Regions from separate parts of the Homo sapiens genome. Here region 2 is linked to region 1. A link means that fine-mapping ties the variant in region 1 to the expression of a gene that starts in the linked region. Tissue or cell type: testis. Region 1 holds a variant in brackets; the other region holds the start of a gene. All regions are shown on one strand. Distances are from middle to middle.

What was found. PIP is the estimated chance that this variant, and not a neighbour inherited with it, causes the effect.
Region 2: LINC01176 starts here. The variant in region 1 is fine-mapped to the expression of LINC01176 in testis (GTEx, PIP above 0.99).

The regions. Positions count from the first base shown.
Region 1 is chr7:30,190,908-30,199,013 of GRCh38, reverse strand. It overlaps LOC124901607 (a long non-coding RNA gene), which reads right to left. Exons shown (of 3, transcript XR_007060274.1): 1 at 1-8,106. Among named protein-coding and RNA genes, the nearest start is that of MTURN, 60 kb to the right of the region's middle. The variant T/C (reference allele first, on the strand shown) is at 4,888.
Region 2 is chr7:30,387,750-30,395,855 of GRCh38, reverse strand. LINC01176 (long intergenic non-protein coding RNA 1176) reads right to left here and starts at 4,971. Exons shown (of 3, transcript NR_108081.1): 1 at 4,821-4,971. RefSeq lists an enhancer at 4,171-4,789.

The DNA of each region.
Region 1 (8,106 bases):
ACATGTAGCCCCCTTCAGCATGACCCTATAAAACTTCCCTCCAGCCCCTGCCTATTTGCAGACAGTCACTTCTCTGTTGTGCTGCTCATTGCAACCTTGCAACGTATTTTCATAGCTTCTCTAATAAATCTGCCTTTCTTTATCTACAACTGTCTTGGTAAATTCCTTTATGGCCCATGACACCAGCCCCAGCTATTCGCACCTACAATATTTCTTTGGCTCTTACAGGGACCTCTCTCCCCTTTCCCTTTCTCTCTTCCAACTGGGGACCCTTCGTGGACAGCACACAAAAACAGAAACAACTGACAGTCTCTGGCAGGGCTATACCCTGATGAAGCTAGAAGGTGTCCATGTGGAAGCATCTTACCACCATCACCTGATCAGATGAGGGACCTTAGTTCAGTTTCTCCTTTTCAGTCTTCCAGCAGCCAACGTCTAGTATCCCTTTGTCAACTTACAGTAACTGGTCAGGGCTGCTCTCTGGTGTTGCCTGAAGTCCAGGGGGTAAACAGGGTTGGCTGTCTTTCCCAGAAGGGAATAAGGCTCTCTCTTATCCTTTCTAGTCAAAAGCCCCCAATCCTTACTTATAGCATGATTGGTGGTGAAAGCTCAACCAAGACAAACCTGCACATGTTCTGGGGAACTCGGACCACCTCTTTCTCACTCTAAATTCTCCCATGAAGACAGCCAGACTTCCTGCTCCAGGTGTTCCCAAATCAGGTGATCTCAAGTGGCCACAGAGCAGTGAGTCTCCCCATTCCTCTCCCCTCTTCTAGGTTGCTTTCCAGCTGAGTTCTCCCTTCACCCTCATTCCTCATGCCTGGACTGGCCATACAGCGTAAGGCCCTACGCCAGGAGATCCTTCCTAATAGGTGGGACACCCCTCTAGGAATGCATCTGAGAAGTCCCCCAGTGGACTTGAGTGGAACCCCTTTCTTCAGTGGGATGCCTGCCCCAAGAGAAAGTGCGACTTGTGTCCCACTCTAGTAGACATCATCCTCAGTTGCTTGTCGTTTTCTAGTCTCACCATGGGACAAACCCCATCTTTTCATTCAGAGCCACCTCTGGGTTACATTCTAAAACATTAGGATAAATTTAATCCTCAGATTCTCAAAAAGGAGCATCTAGTTTTCTTGTGTAACACAGCATGGCCCCATTGCAGGAAGTCCTCAAATTAGCCTCCTCAGTTTTTTATAACTGAGAGCAGAATAGGGAGGACAGGGCTAAGAAGAAAGAAAAACAAAGGGACAAGAGGCAGGCTCAGCTGCTGGCTGCTTTACAAGCCCCCAGCCCCTTCCAGGTTGCCCTAAGAACATCCCTCCAGGTAACTGCCACCAGTGCAGAAGGCCAGGCCACTGGAAAGCAAACTGACCCAAAGGAATAAACGGAAAAAGCCCTCTGTGTCTTGCCCCCTCTGTCACAAGCTTGGCCACTGGAAACAAGACTGCCCTGAGAGCTGAAGTGTCCCTGGGACAGAATTCCAACCTCTGATGGCCCTGAGAGAAAGGGGCTCTCTGCTCCAGCTGGCTTCCAAATCAAACATTATCATCAACAAGACAAAGCCAAGGACAACCCTAGAGATGGAAAGTAAAATGATAAATTTCCCTTTTGGGTTCAAGAGCTGCCTACTCTGTACTAATCTCCTTCTCTGAGCAACTCTCCTCCAAATCCTGTTGGGTAATTGGAGCAAATGACACCCCCTCCCTCCAAAAGAAAAGATTCACATTTCTTTATGTTACTGAAGGGTCCAATTACCATTCTCCCAAGTCCCCAGTAATGTCTAAATACTTCATACCCCTTTGGGACGGAAATATACTTTCCAAGATGGGTGCCTGCTTTAATATTTGCCCAACCTCTGCATTCATCTTTCCCTCTAATAGTCCTATTTCTCCCAGGAAAGCTACCTAAATCTTTAACCAATAACTTCAACCTAAATAGTCCTACCTAACTCAGGGTTTTAAAAATAGCTCACACTTATTCAGACAAGTCCTAGCAAGAATCTAACCCAACAATTTCTTGAGGGGGGATAACCTACAGTATGTAGATCACCTCCTCATTTGCTCCCCCTTCATGGACAATATGTATTAACACAGCAATATGCAGTACAAACCTTAACTTCCTAACAAAATAAAATAATTTTTGTCTAATTCAAAGGTTATTTAAAGGTTTTATATTAAACAAGATCAAAGGAATCAGGAAATAAGAGAGACATAAAAAAGTTATAAAAGTAAAGAGGTATTTTTTGGTAAGGAAGGTTGTAGAAAAGAGGATTTATATAAGAAAGGATCTTGTATGGTAAATTCTTGGCCTAAAGTAAAATGACTGGTTGTTTTAAAAAGAGGGATGTTTAGGACAAGACAGAAAGTCCAAGTGTGTCATAGATGGTCTGCATAAGTCATGAGAAAATCTATGAATGGAAATTTATAAAAGGAATATTGTATGTAATTAAGGTATAGTAGTCTCTCTAAAATTGGTTCCCTATGCTGTGTCTAATTAAATTTAAACACTTTTTCATTGAGTTCAACTTCCAGGTTATCTAAATGGGCTTCCAATAAGGACAAACAGTCACACTGCAAAAGGTTTTTCTTTGCCTTTTTGGTAACTGGCTTAAGAAACAAAATTTCCCCTACTGGAATTGAGCAGTTTCACCTTCAAATGATGCTGTGAATGGAATATCTGTCTCACCCCAGGGATGCCTGCTACCTTTATGAATCTCCCCTGGATTCTGCAAGACACCAGTTTCACCTTGACATGTTCCCCCTTTGTGATGAGTCCCTTCCTCCAGCAAGATGCAATATCCTAAGTACCACAATCCGGGACAATGACCTACAGGGTCTCCTATCAGACCAACAACCATAGGTAGGGTCAATTCTACACCCCAGGCCAGCAGGAAGTAGTTGGAAGACGAGTTCTCTGCCCCAATGCCAAAGATTTGTCATTGTTTTCTCTTGGGGTGGAATGTAGGGTCCTGAAAGGTAAGCAACAATGAGGAAGGGGCCCCAGGTGGGGAGAACCATGAATAATTTTTCTGAGAGATGGCTAATTACAAACAACCCAAAGGCACAATGACCTTATTCCACATGTAGCCCCAGCAGCACAACCTTCTTCCACTTGTAGCCCCCTTCAGCACGACCCTGTAAACTCTCCTCCGGCCCCTGCCTCTTCGCAAGTAGCCCCTTCTCTGCTGTGCTGCCTATTGCAACCTTGCAACATACTTTCATATCTTCTCTAATAATTCTGCCTTTCTATACCTACAACTGTCTTGGTAAATTCCTTTATTGCCCATGACACCAGCCCCAGCTAGTCACACTGATGACAAGTCTCAGGGGTTATGCAGGCTTCTAGGGCAAAAACATGTGCCAGACACTGTTGTGTGAAACAGGGTCCCCAGTCCTGATTGCAGGAAGCTATTTTATCCTATTCAGTAGCAGCATGAGGTTCTCCTGGCATGGTCATATGCTTCATGATGTATTTTCTGATGTGTTTTTCTCCTCTGTCTTTCCACCATGTGTCCTTTCCGCATCAGTCAACTTGGCACAGTATCCTTGCCTCTGGGATAAGGAGGCACAGCGGAAAGTTGAGAAAACATTTAAAGAGTCAGTTCTTGGCTTTTAATTTCCAAAAGCCTAAGCCTTGGGAGCAATAGGAAAAACACAGGGCATGTGCATTAGATTTGCAAGAGTATCTGATGGGAGGACATAAAGTTTACCTCATCCCCCCTGCCCCCTGCCTCACCCAGACTAAAGTTCTCCCAGTTAGGTAAAGGACAGCAGAGAAGCAGCAGTGGTTGACACTGGTGGGTTGTGGAGAGGTACACCATGCCTGCTCCAGACTGAGACTCAGAGAGGGGCAGGCAGGAAGCCACAGTCTGAGAGAGCAGAGTGAGTGGGAGATCTGTGGAAGTGGCAAGATGGCAGAGCTGGGCTGCGGAACTTACCAAGTTTTCCATGACAGCAGTTGGCTCACATGTGCCCAAGGGTGGCACTAAACTAGCACAAAGAGCAGGGACAGAAGGGGTCACTCACCAGTGAATCAACAACCAAAACAGCAAATGACTACAATCCACAACCCAAGTCCCAAGCAGGGCCTCTGAGAGGTGCTCGACCACCACTGTATGATACACAGCATAGCTGGGCCCAGATCTCCTTCCAGACCTCTGGCCCTCGAAATTGGGACAGGTTTCCCTGCCTCCTGCTGCCCCCACCCAGCCCTGGTCCTAGGTCTCACATGCTGGTGCTACATGAGTCCTCTGGAACTCAGACAATCTCAAAAGGAGGAAGAGATGGGAGTTATGATGGAAATTAACTTCTGCTGAAGAAAAACGATATTTTATTTCATGCACACGTGTGTTTGTGGAATGAGATTTATACTTAATATGATTGACTAGCAAATAATTTAATCCTAAAGGTATGGTTTATTCCAATGAATGGTGACAGAAAAAAGGGTCTAGCTTCACAGAGCTCATGGATAGACACACATGCACACAACACATATAAATATACACACTGGTACACACATAACCCCTACACACCTGTACAAACACATGCACTAGAGACAGAGACACAAAGACATGTACAGCATCTCACACTCATAGACACATACACCACACATACATACACACGCACACCATACACACACACACCACAGTGACATACCACACACATATATACCATATATATGTGTATATATATATATACACACATATATATACACAAATATGTTTACTACTTTACACCTACTTAGCTTGTCTACACCACCCATAGCCTGATGGTTTCCTCACTACTCGAAGTGCTGTGGGCTTAATTACCATCTACTATGGGTGCTGAATTCGTGTCACATGTCTTTGATTATCCAAATCTGATCTCAACTCCACTGGAGCAGAGGCAT[T/C]GCAGTCTCTACAGAGACTTGTCTTGTTATTTCTCCCATATCCTTGTTCTCAATCCTTCGATGACTTTCAGCTTGACCCATGAACATAGGCATAGCTGAGACCCCTTTCGGGCCACGTCAGCACCCTAGGGATGATAAGGTGATGATATGGAAGGAACCTGAACCTCTGACTACTTCACAGTGCCAGCATGGACTTTCATATGAAAAAGAGCTAAACTTTCCCATCTAAGCTACTGCTATTTGGGGTCTCTGTTGAAGCTGCTAATAATATATCCCAATTAATACAGTACTTGAATTTTAATGTTTTTTGTGAATCAGAGAGAAAGCCTTGGTCCCACATAAGATGAAGAATGAGAATTGAAACCCCCTTATGAAACTGTCACTCCGCAGAGCTATATACTTAACAAAACAGTTAGCTAGGGTAAAATCCATTCATCAGCAAACTGAGACAACAAGGAAACTTGTCTGTTTTTGTCCTACTTTGCATGGGGAAAATGTATTCCATGATCGTTCCTAACCACACGCCCGCTTCCATTTTAGGACTTGAAATTTACATTGCTTGCACGATATGGTAAAAGAAAAGAACATAAAACTTGGTTCTAAGCCTGTAATACCCCTGAGACATTAGGCAGAATCAAAAGCAGAACCACCCTGGAGGGCCACATCTTCAACCCAGACCATGTAGATAAAGCCTGACTAAAGTGAGATTACAAACCATATAAGAAAACAACCCACCAAGAACAAGAGTCAGCATATGGAGCAAAACATACAGGAAAGGGCTCTCTGGTCTTCAGCCAACACCAGTCTCTGATGTTACACTTTTTCCCAAGCCCATGGCTCTCATGCCAATCTCAGGGACAGGGCTCTTTGTCAAACTGGGACCCTGGTGTCTGGGCTTTAGTCTCTAAGTGCACCAGACACATGCCCCTGTGAAGTCCTGCTGTCAAACCCAGGAACTCAAATGGAGCATGGCATATCCCTTCTTGGGACTACATTCTGCAGGCCCTTTTCCTGTCTTGGGAGAAAATGTCACACACACACACACACACACACACACACACACACACACACACACACGTGCACACACACACATCTCATTTGGGTGATTTAACTCTTACAGGACTCAAAGTCCTTTTTGCCACTCCTACTCTAATTCTTCTGCAGTGGATACAAAACAAAAAGTGATATCAAAAATTATCTTGTAACCAAAGAAGGTATTTTCAGATGCTTTAGAAAGGGTATAATCTCCTAGAATTATTAGCTTAGACAGAGAAGCGACTTCCAAAGTGGAGCCTTTCATTCCCTCTGCTCGATGTGGCCCTCTCCTTCCTTTTCATCCCAGCTCCTGCTGATCCTTCAGGATTCAGCTGAAGTGTCACCTCTTCCAAGATTTCCCAGACCCTGGGGTCGTGCTTAGACAACACTCAATAACAAGAATAAGAAGAATAATAAGAACAATAACCGGTATTTATGCAGCACTTACATTGTTGTGAGCTCTTTGTATATGGTACCTCATTTCAACCTCACAACAATTTTCTAAGATTGGTGAAATTACCATCTTCTTTTTATAGATGAGGAAACTGAGGCATACAATTAAATACATTGTCCAAAGTCAAACAGGAAGCATCATCATTGGGATCCAAACCTATATGGTTGGCCTGCAGAGGACTTCTGTCTGAGTTTGTGTTCTCCAAAAGTAGACCCTTGAGATTAGGGTTTGGGTGCAAATGCTCTATTTGGGAGGTGATCCCAGGATACCCAGGTGAGGAATAGGGGAGTGAGACAGAGAAAGGAGGAAAGCCAGCAAAAGGGTCCATCTATGGACAATTCAGCCCAACCTGCCAGGGACCTTCTGAAGGGTTAAGAAAAGAACACCTCTGAACTATTCCACCCGGAAGTAGGGGAGCTGGGGTGCTGAAACTCTAAATGCAATCCTTCATGGGTTAAAGATTTGTCCCTGAGTCCTAACCACTCAGCACTTCCAACCTGTCCTGTGGCTGGGTTGAGCACACACCTACACAGGACCTTGAGCTAGAAAGCCGACAATATTCATGAAAACTGTCTTCTGATGCCACAGGGGACGTCCAGGGTGGAGCTGACACAGATGAGCCAGGCCAGCAGCATGAGCTGCACCAGCCCCTCCCACATTACACTGTCCCGCCCCCTTGTCTTTCCTCTATTATAATGGCATTTATCAGATCATTGTGAAGTTGGTGGCCCAGGTGTCTGCTGTATTAATCAGAATTCTTGCTTGTAAGTCGAGAAAGCCTCAACTTCCATTAACTTAAACAAAAAAGTGACCTTGTTGGTTCCTGTAACTACAAAGTCAGACACCCAACCATCTAGGAGGAGTTACAGCTAGACCCAGGAACTCAAGCATCTGTCTACCCACCTTTTAGATCTCCTTTCCTCTGTGTTGGCTCTAATTTCAGGCAAGCTTTTTCCATGAGGCGGCAAAGGCAGCTCCTGACATCTCCAGGCTCACCCTGTTCTTATTTGCTGTTTCAGATGGCGGGTGCCTTCCTCATTAGCTCCACCAAAAGTCCTGGGGAAGGATTTAAATGGCTGAACTCAGGTCATGTGTCAATTTCTGAACCAATCACAATGGTCAAAAGGATTGTGATACTCTGATTAGCCAGGGCTGGTCACACCCTCCTCCTTGGAGCTAGCAGAGGTGACATTAGTGCCAATGAAACCACACTGACTGCAAGCAGGGCTATGCCGTAAAGAGATGATGGGCAGAAGCAAGCCTGCATCCATGATGCTTCTCCTCAGGGCCAGGCTGTTGTTTCCTCCATTGTACAGATGGCATCTGACTTCACTGAGTAGTCCCAGCTCCTCACCAGCACATGCACATGAAACATGCTTCCTCGACACTTGTTGAATGAATGAATGAGGCTCAGGAGCATTCTGAAGGGGAAATATCCACAGGTGTCTGAAAGGCTTTGTGAAGTTGTTATCATCCTGAGGTTAGGATTATTCCAGTGCTTGTCTTACTTGGCATAGGTGTCCTTCAAATGCAGGCCCACTCTACCTCCAGCCTGGTCTTCAGCCAGCCCTCCCACAGGCCCACGCTCCTCCCTCTCCCTGGAGCTCTTTCCTTGCCCTCTTTGCCAGCCTTGACCTCCTGGGCTCAGATGATCCTCCCACCTCAGCCTCCCAGGTAGATGGGATTACAGGTGCGTGCCATCATGCCCAGCTAACTTTTTTTTTTTTTTT
Region 2 (8,106 bases), 200 kb before region 1:
ATTTGCGAGAACTGTTTACATTCACTCAGGAAATCTGCCCACCTCAAGGCACAAGTAGTTGGCTCATACCTACTGTGATGTATGTTACTGTATTAATCTGTTCTCGTACTGCTAATAAAGACATACCCAAGCGTGGGTAATTTACAAATGAAAGAGGCTTAATGGACTCACAGTTCCAAATGGCTGGGGAGGCCTCACAATCAATGGCAGAAGGCAAGAAGGAGCAAAGTCACCTCTTACATGGTGGCAGGCAAGACAGCGTGTACAGAACTCCACTTTATAAAACCATCAGATCTCATGAGACTTCTTCACTATCACAAGAATAGCACGGGAAAGACTCGCCCCCATGAATGAATTACCTCCTACTGGGTCCCTCTCACGACACGTGGGGATTATTACAATTCAAGGTGAGATTTGGGTGGGAACACAGACCCAAACCATATCATTTGCACTCCCAATACAGATGACCCCACATTCCTACATGGCTTCTTTTCAACCAACAAATCAAAATTTGAGAGATGCAGCTAAAGCAGTACAACAGATTGCAGAGGAAATTATAGCATTCTATACAAACTCTTTCAGAAAATGAAAGGGGAGAGAACACTTCTCAACTTTCTTAATGAGCCCTCCATTACCCTGACACCAAAACCAAAGATACTGCAAGAAAACAACAGACCATGTCCTTCACAGACATACATATAAAAAGTCTTCAACCACATTTTAGCAAATTGAATCCATAAATACATAAAAAGTTGGGTCAACATTCAAAAATTAATCAAGGAAGTCATCCTATCAGCTGATTAGAAAAATCATATGATTTCATTTGATGGGGAAAAAAATTGCCAAAATTCAATATCCAGTCATAATAAATCCTCTTAGCAAAAGACTGAATGCTTTCCCTTTAAGTTCAAGAACACGCAAGGCTCTCGGCTGTTAGTAGTGAGATCTATTCATATTAGCCAATGTAATAAGGGAGGAGTGAGAGAGGGAAGGGGAGAGAAGGGACAGAGGTGGAAAGTGACACATGAAGGGAAGGAGGAGCAAACAATAAAAAGAGAAAAAAAGAAAAGAAAAGGCGTACAGATTAGAAAGGAATAAATGGTTTCGATCTGTGGACAACATAATTGTCTATGCAGAAAATTCCAGAGAATCTACAAAAAAAAAAAAAAAAGCTACTAGAACAAGTAAGTGAGTTTAGGAAGATCACAGGATACAAAAGGAAATATAGAAAAATCAGTCAGTTTCATATAACAGCAATGAACTGAATATTAAAAACTTTAAAACAGTATTATTTACAATTTACAATAGCACTAAAAATCATGAATACTCAAGTATAAACCTATCAAATTATGTAAAAGATTTGTATATTGAAAACCATAAAACGCTGATGAAAGACACTTTAAAATACTGAAATAGGCTGGGTGTGGTGGCTCACGACTGTAATCCCAGCACTTTGGGAAGCTGAGGCTGGCAGATCACGAGGTCAGGAGTTTGAGACCAGCCCAACCAACATGGTGAAACCCCATCTCGACTAAAAATACAAAAATTATCCGGGCGTGGTAGCACGTGCCTGTAATCCCAGCTACTCAGGAGGCTGAGGCAGGAGAATCACTTGAACCCAGGAAGTGGAGGTTGCAGTGAGCCAAGATTGCACCACTGCACTCCAGCCTGGGTGACAGAGAGAGACTCTGTCTCAAAAAAAACAAAAACAAACAAACAAAAAACTGAAATAAATGGTGAGATATATTACATTCACTGGTAACAGGACTCAATATTGTTAAGATGTCAAAATTGATCTATAGGTTCAATGCAATCCCAATCAAAATCCCAGTAGGAAGTCTGGTAGTAATTAATAGGCTGATTCCAAAATTTATATGGAGGGGCAAAGGAGCTATAAAAACTAAAACATTTGAGGAAAAAAAAAATAAAGCTGGAGGACTCACACTACCCAATTTCAAAACTTACTACAAAGCCACAGTAATTAAGACAGTATAGTCATAAAGAAGGGGCAGACACAGATGCAGAAAAGAAAATTCAGAAATAAATCCACACCCATGAATAACTGATTTTAAACAAGGTGTAAAGATAATACAGTGGATAAAGAACAGTCTTTTTAACAAATAATGCTAGAATAAGTGTATATACATACACAAAAACAAAAACAAAACTCTCCACCCATTGCTTGCACCACATAAAAAAAGTAACTAGAAATGGATCATACCTTAACTGCAATACCTAAATCTTCTACAACAAGAGTTAGCAAACTAAGGCTCATGGGCCAAATCTTTATCTGTTTTTGTAAAAACAGTTTTACTGAACACCTATTCATTTATGTATTTTATGGCTGCTTACATGCTACAACAGTGACTATGACCTGTAAAGCCTAAAATATTTTCTATTTGGCCCTTTACAGAAAAAGTTTGCTCACCTCTTTTCTAGAAGACAGATCTTTGTAACTTTGGGTTTACCAAACATTTCTTAGATTTGACACCAAAAGCACAATTCAAAAAAGAAAAAGACCCAATAAATTGAACTTCCATCAAAATTTTAAATGTCTGCTCTTCAAAAGACATTGCTAAGAAAACAAAAGAACAAGCCAGACTGGGAGAAAATAGAAAATACTTGCAAGTCATATATATATGTATATATATATGACATATATATATATGTATATATATATGACATATATATATGTCGTATATATATATGACATATATATATGTGTATATATATGACATATATATGTATATATGACATATATATGTATATATGACATATATATGTATATATATGACATATATATGTATATATATGACATATATGTGTATATATATGACATATATATGTATATATGACATATATGTATATATATGCCATATATATGTATATATATGCCATATATATGTATATATGCCATATATGTATATATGTCATATATATGTATATATATGTGACATATATATGTATATATATGACATATATATGTGTATATGACATATATATGTATATATATATGACATATATATGTATATATATGACATATATATGTTATATATATGACATATATATGTATATATATACATATATATGTATATATGACATATATATGTATATATTTGACATATATATTTGACATATATATATTTGACATATATATATATTTGACATATATATATATATATTTGACATATATATATATATATATATAATTTTTTTTTTTTTAAAGACAGGGTGTCACTCTGTCTCCCAGGCTGAAGTGCAGCAGCACAATCATGGCTCACTACAGCCACAACCGCCCAGGTAGCTGGGACAAAAGGCGTGTGCCACCACCATGCCTGGCTAATTTTTTGTATTTTTTGTACTTTTTTTTTTTTTTGTAGAGATGGGGTTTCACCATGCTGCCCAGGCTTGTCTCGAACTCCTGGGCTCAAGCAATTTGCCCACCTTGGCCTCCCAAAGTGCTGGGATTACAAGCGTGAGCCACCACACCTGGCCAAAACCATATTTTTGATAAAGGATTTGTATCAAGAATATACAAAGAATTCTCAAGATTCAGTAAGAAAACATACAATCCAGTTTTTCAAAAATGTGCCAAAGGGTTGAATAGACACTTCACTAAAGAAAATATACCTGTAGCAAAGAAGAATATGAAAAAATACACAACATCATTTGCATTGGGAGAATGAAAATGAAAAACACAATGAAATGCACCGTATACCCAAGTCAAAACAAAAAAATAGCAAAAACATCAAAACTGCAGACAATATCAAATTCTGGTGAGGATGCCAATCACCTGGAATTTTCATACATTTTTGGTGGGAATGCAAAGTGGCACCACCAGTTTGCAAACCTGTTTGGCAATTTCCTACTAAGTATATATACATATTTATCATATAACTAGCTATCCCACTCCTAGGAATGTACTCAAGAGAAACAAAATCTTTGATTCACATAAAAACTTCTAGGTGAGGCCGGGCGCAGTGGCTGACGCCTGTAATCCCAGCACTTTGCGGGACAGAGGCAGGCGGATCATGAGGTCAAGAGATCAAGACCATCCTGGCCAACATGGTGAAACCCAGTCTCTACTAAAAATGCAAAAATTAGCTGGGCGTGGTGGCATGTGCCTGTAATCCCAGCTACTAGGGAGGCTGAGGCAGGAGAATCACTTGAACCTGGGAGGCGGAGGTTGCAGTGAGCCAAGATCGGACCACTGCACTCCAGCCTGGCGACAGAGCGAGACTCTGTCTCAAAAACAAAACAAAACAAAACAAAAAAACTTCTAGGTGAATGTTAACAGCAGCTTAACCACTGTCACTAAAAACTGGAACCAACACAAATCTTCCACTAGTAAATGGATGAGTAAACTATGGATTGCCACTCAGCAATTAAAAGGACCAAGCTGCTGAATACACATGACAACATGGATGACTCAAATGATTATGCTAAGTGGAAGAAGCTGGGCTTCTGTGATTTTCTATTCTCATTCATATTCAAGTTGCTTGGGTAACTTGTAATCTTTATCGCTTGCCACACATTATTCTTGAATAAGTATTTAACGGGAGTCTCCTGACGCTTGAGATGAGCCCTCTTCCAGAGAGATCTTGCTGTGCTTCTGCCGAATTCAGATTTTGAGAATCCTTGGCCCAACCAGCTATGTATATTTGAGAAGCTAATCTTCAGGGAAGCAGATATGCACAGGCCTTCCAGGGAAATTGTATTTTCTATTTCTTTTCCTCCCTGCTCCAAGAGCACCAAGGTAGCCACAGTTCATTACAACTGCTGGGAAGAGGGCACTGGGTTCAGCTCTGACTCCTCCTTACCTTTAGCTCCTTGTTATCCGATTCCTGTTGGTAGGGTCTCCTGCAAGCACACTGTCTTGCGTGGGCTCTGTGCTTTAACATGTTTTCTTGGCTCAGCCAGGCCACAGAAACAGCAGACAAGTGTTTGTGGTATCAGCAACTGCTGTCTCAGCACAGGCAGCTTTTTGTTCCAGTATTCCATTTCCCTCCCTGGTTATAGACTTTTATCCAAAAACTGGCCTGGAAGTTCAATGTTTTTTTAGTTCTTCACTTAAAAAAAGCCATTATTTTGTTTCTTCAAGTTTTCATAACCAGCCATCACCAGAAACTGGAAGTCCAAACATGCTCTTATTATTTAAGTAATTGGTGTACATGGTATAAATTCACGTCTTACAGAAAGATGCACAATGAAAAAAAGCAGCCTCTCCATGGCCCCTCCTCCCAATTCCAGTCCCACCCACTCCAAGTAAAGCAAAAAGTGCTTTAGTTGTATTTCTAAACGTTCCTACAACAGATATCTATTATTTTGCAATGGGAAAAATTTTACTTTAAAACATCCCCGGAACTTCTAATCTTCTGATACTTATAACCTCCATATCTCCAAGTAACATCTTTCTCTGTCTCTTGGTTCACAAACTCCTATGTCCAATATCTCCCACCTAAAAATGATGCCCTTTATAATCCCCTTGAAAAAGTGGAGTATACTTACCTCCTTGCCACAATCCCAATATGTTAGTCTTATTATTTCTTAGCTTACTGAGTGCCAACTATGTGCCAGGCAGTGCTTTAGAACCCATGGATACAATAGTGATCAAAACTAACAAAGTCCTTGACTTCACAGTGCTTACATTCTGGAAGAAGAGTGACAATAAACAAACATAAGATTTGTCAGGTAAATGTTATAGAAAAATAGAACAAGGTAAAGGAAACAGGGAATGTAGGGGTGAGGGCAGATTCATGAACTTATTTTGTATTGTATAGTTAAGGAAGGGCACTCAGATAAGGCGATATCTGAGCCAACGCAACAAAGGAAGTGAAAGAGGAAGCCTGTGGATACTTGGAGGAATTGTTATAGGCAGAAGGAAGAAGTGCCAAGGCCCTGACACAGGGGCTTGCTTGCCTGGTGTATTCCAGGAATAGCTTCAGGGGAACAAGTCAGGGGTGAGCAGGAGAAGATGAGCTAGAGAGGCAGGAGTGAGTGGCATGTACATGTCTGTGTGTATGCATACATGCACACTCCGGATGGCTGAGGGTATTTTAGGTCATGGTAAAGACCTTAGCTTTGGCTCTGAGTAAGATGGGAGCCAAGGGGGATTTTCAGCAGAGTAGTACCATGATCTGACGCTGTATTTGTTAACTTATAATGACCCCTATATTCCTTGATCCATCAACTTTAGACCAAAATGTTCATCGAAACATTTTTTGTAACAGTAAAATATTGGGGGAAATTATTTGACCACAAGCATTGTCTAAAGATATTATGGTACAACTACGAAATGGAATACTATGCAAATACAAAACATGATAAATGGAATGTTAGAAATGTGGTTCTAAAATACCACATATAATGTTATCCTGTGAATATATATGCATTGAAGAGTATGGAAAGACATATGCCAACAAATAAGGAGAAAAAAGTCTCTGGGGAGATGGGAAAAGGAGAAATATGAAGGTATTTTTTCCTTTGTGCCTTGTGTTTCCAAAAGTTCCTACAACACATATCTATTATTTTGCAGTGGGGAAAATTTTACTTTAAAACATCCAAGGCCAGGCGTGGTGGCTCACGCCTGTAATCCCAGCACTTTGGGAGGCCGAGGGGGGTGGATCACCTGAGGTCAGGAGTTCAAAACCAGCCTGGCCAATGTGGTGAAACCCTGTCTCTTCTAAAAATACAAAAATTAGCCTGGTGTGGTGGCGGGCGCCTGTAATCCCAGCTACTCAGGAGGCTGAGGATGGAGAATCGCTTGAACCCGGGAGGTGGAGGTTGCAGTAAGCCGAGATCGCGCCACTGCATTCCAGCCTGGGCGACAAAAGTGAAACACCGTCTAAAAAAAAAAAAAAAAATCCAAAAGATTAGAACCATAAACTAATCATTTTCTTTGTTTTAAGCTCAAAACAATTATATACAGCTCCTATGAGAATAATCAATACTGAATATCAACAAACTGACACGCATGTGGCTACCAAGTCTCTAGAATGACCCACTGAAATTCAGTAAAAGCTTAGAGAGCACAGGGTTAACTGCCATGCTGCACTATTTCCCCTCTTACTTGAACAAAGTAACACTTGCTGATGTAACTGTGCTTGCCAAGTTTTTGATAGTAAGTCCATCATGTCTCGTAACTTCAAAGAGTCTCAAAAGTGTCAAGATCCTAAGACAGGAAACTTCTGGTAGCTGACAATGTCTGGTTAATAGGGGGTTTGGTGAAAGCACAGGCAATGGGCACAGTAGAGAAGCAAGCAGCAAACAATGGAGATGTCCAGGACCATCCTGGCACGTGTTCTCCAGCGTTTCTAGGAAAGGTCTCTGGTCTAGTTATCAACCGCTGTGTAACAAACCATCCCAAACTTAGTGAGATGAAACAACAATCATATATCATCTTCTCTCACAATTCTGGGGATTGACTGGACTCAGCTAGGCAGCTCTCCCTCAGGTCTCTCATCCAGCTCTAGCCAGATGGTGGTTAGGGTGGAATCATCTAGAAGGCTTCCTCACTCACATGTTTGGTGGTTGACGTGGCCAGGGCTTTCTCACACAGCATAGAACCTTGGTTCCACGGAGAACCTTCCTGAGAGAAAGCCAGTTAGAAGCTGTATTACCTATTCTAACTAAGCCCTGGAAGTCATACAGCATCACTTCTGTTGCATTCTGTTAGTTAGAAACAAGTTACTAGGGCCAGTTCATACTCAAGATGAGTGAAATTCAGATTTTGCTTCTTTTTTTTTTTTTTTTTTTTTTTTTTTTTTTTTTTTTTTTGCAGATGGAGTCTCACTCTGTCCCAGGTTGCAGTACAGTGGCATCATCTCCGCTCACTGCAAACTCTGCCTCCCAGGTTCAAGCGATTCTGCTGCCCCAGCCTCCTGAGTAGCTGGGATTACAGGTGTGCACCACCACACCCAGCTAATTTTTGTATTTTTAGTAGAGACGGGGTTTTGCCATGCTGGCCAGGCTGGTCTCGAACTCCTGACCTCAGATAAGTGCTCCAAAGTGAGAGCCATCACTATTATTTGCATAATCTCATTTACACAAACTTGATAAAAGCATAGTATCAAAAGGCTGATGTGAACTGCTTCATTAATAGTCTTA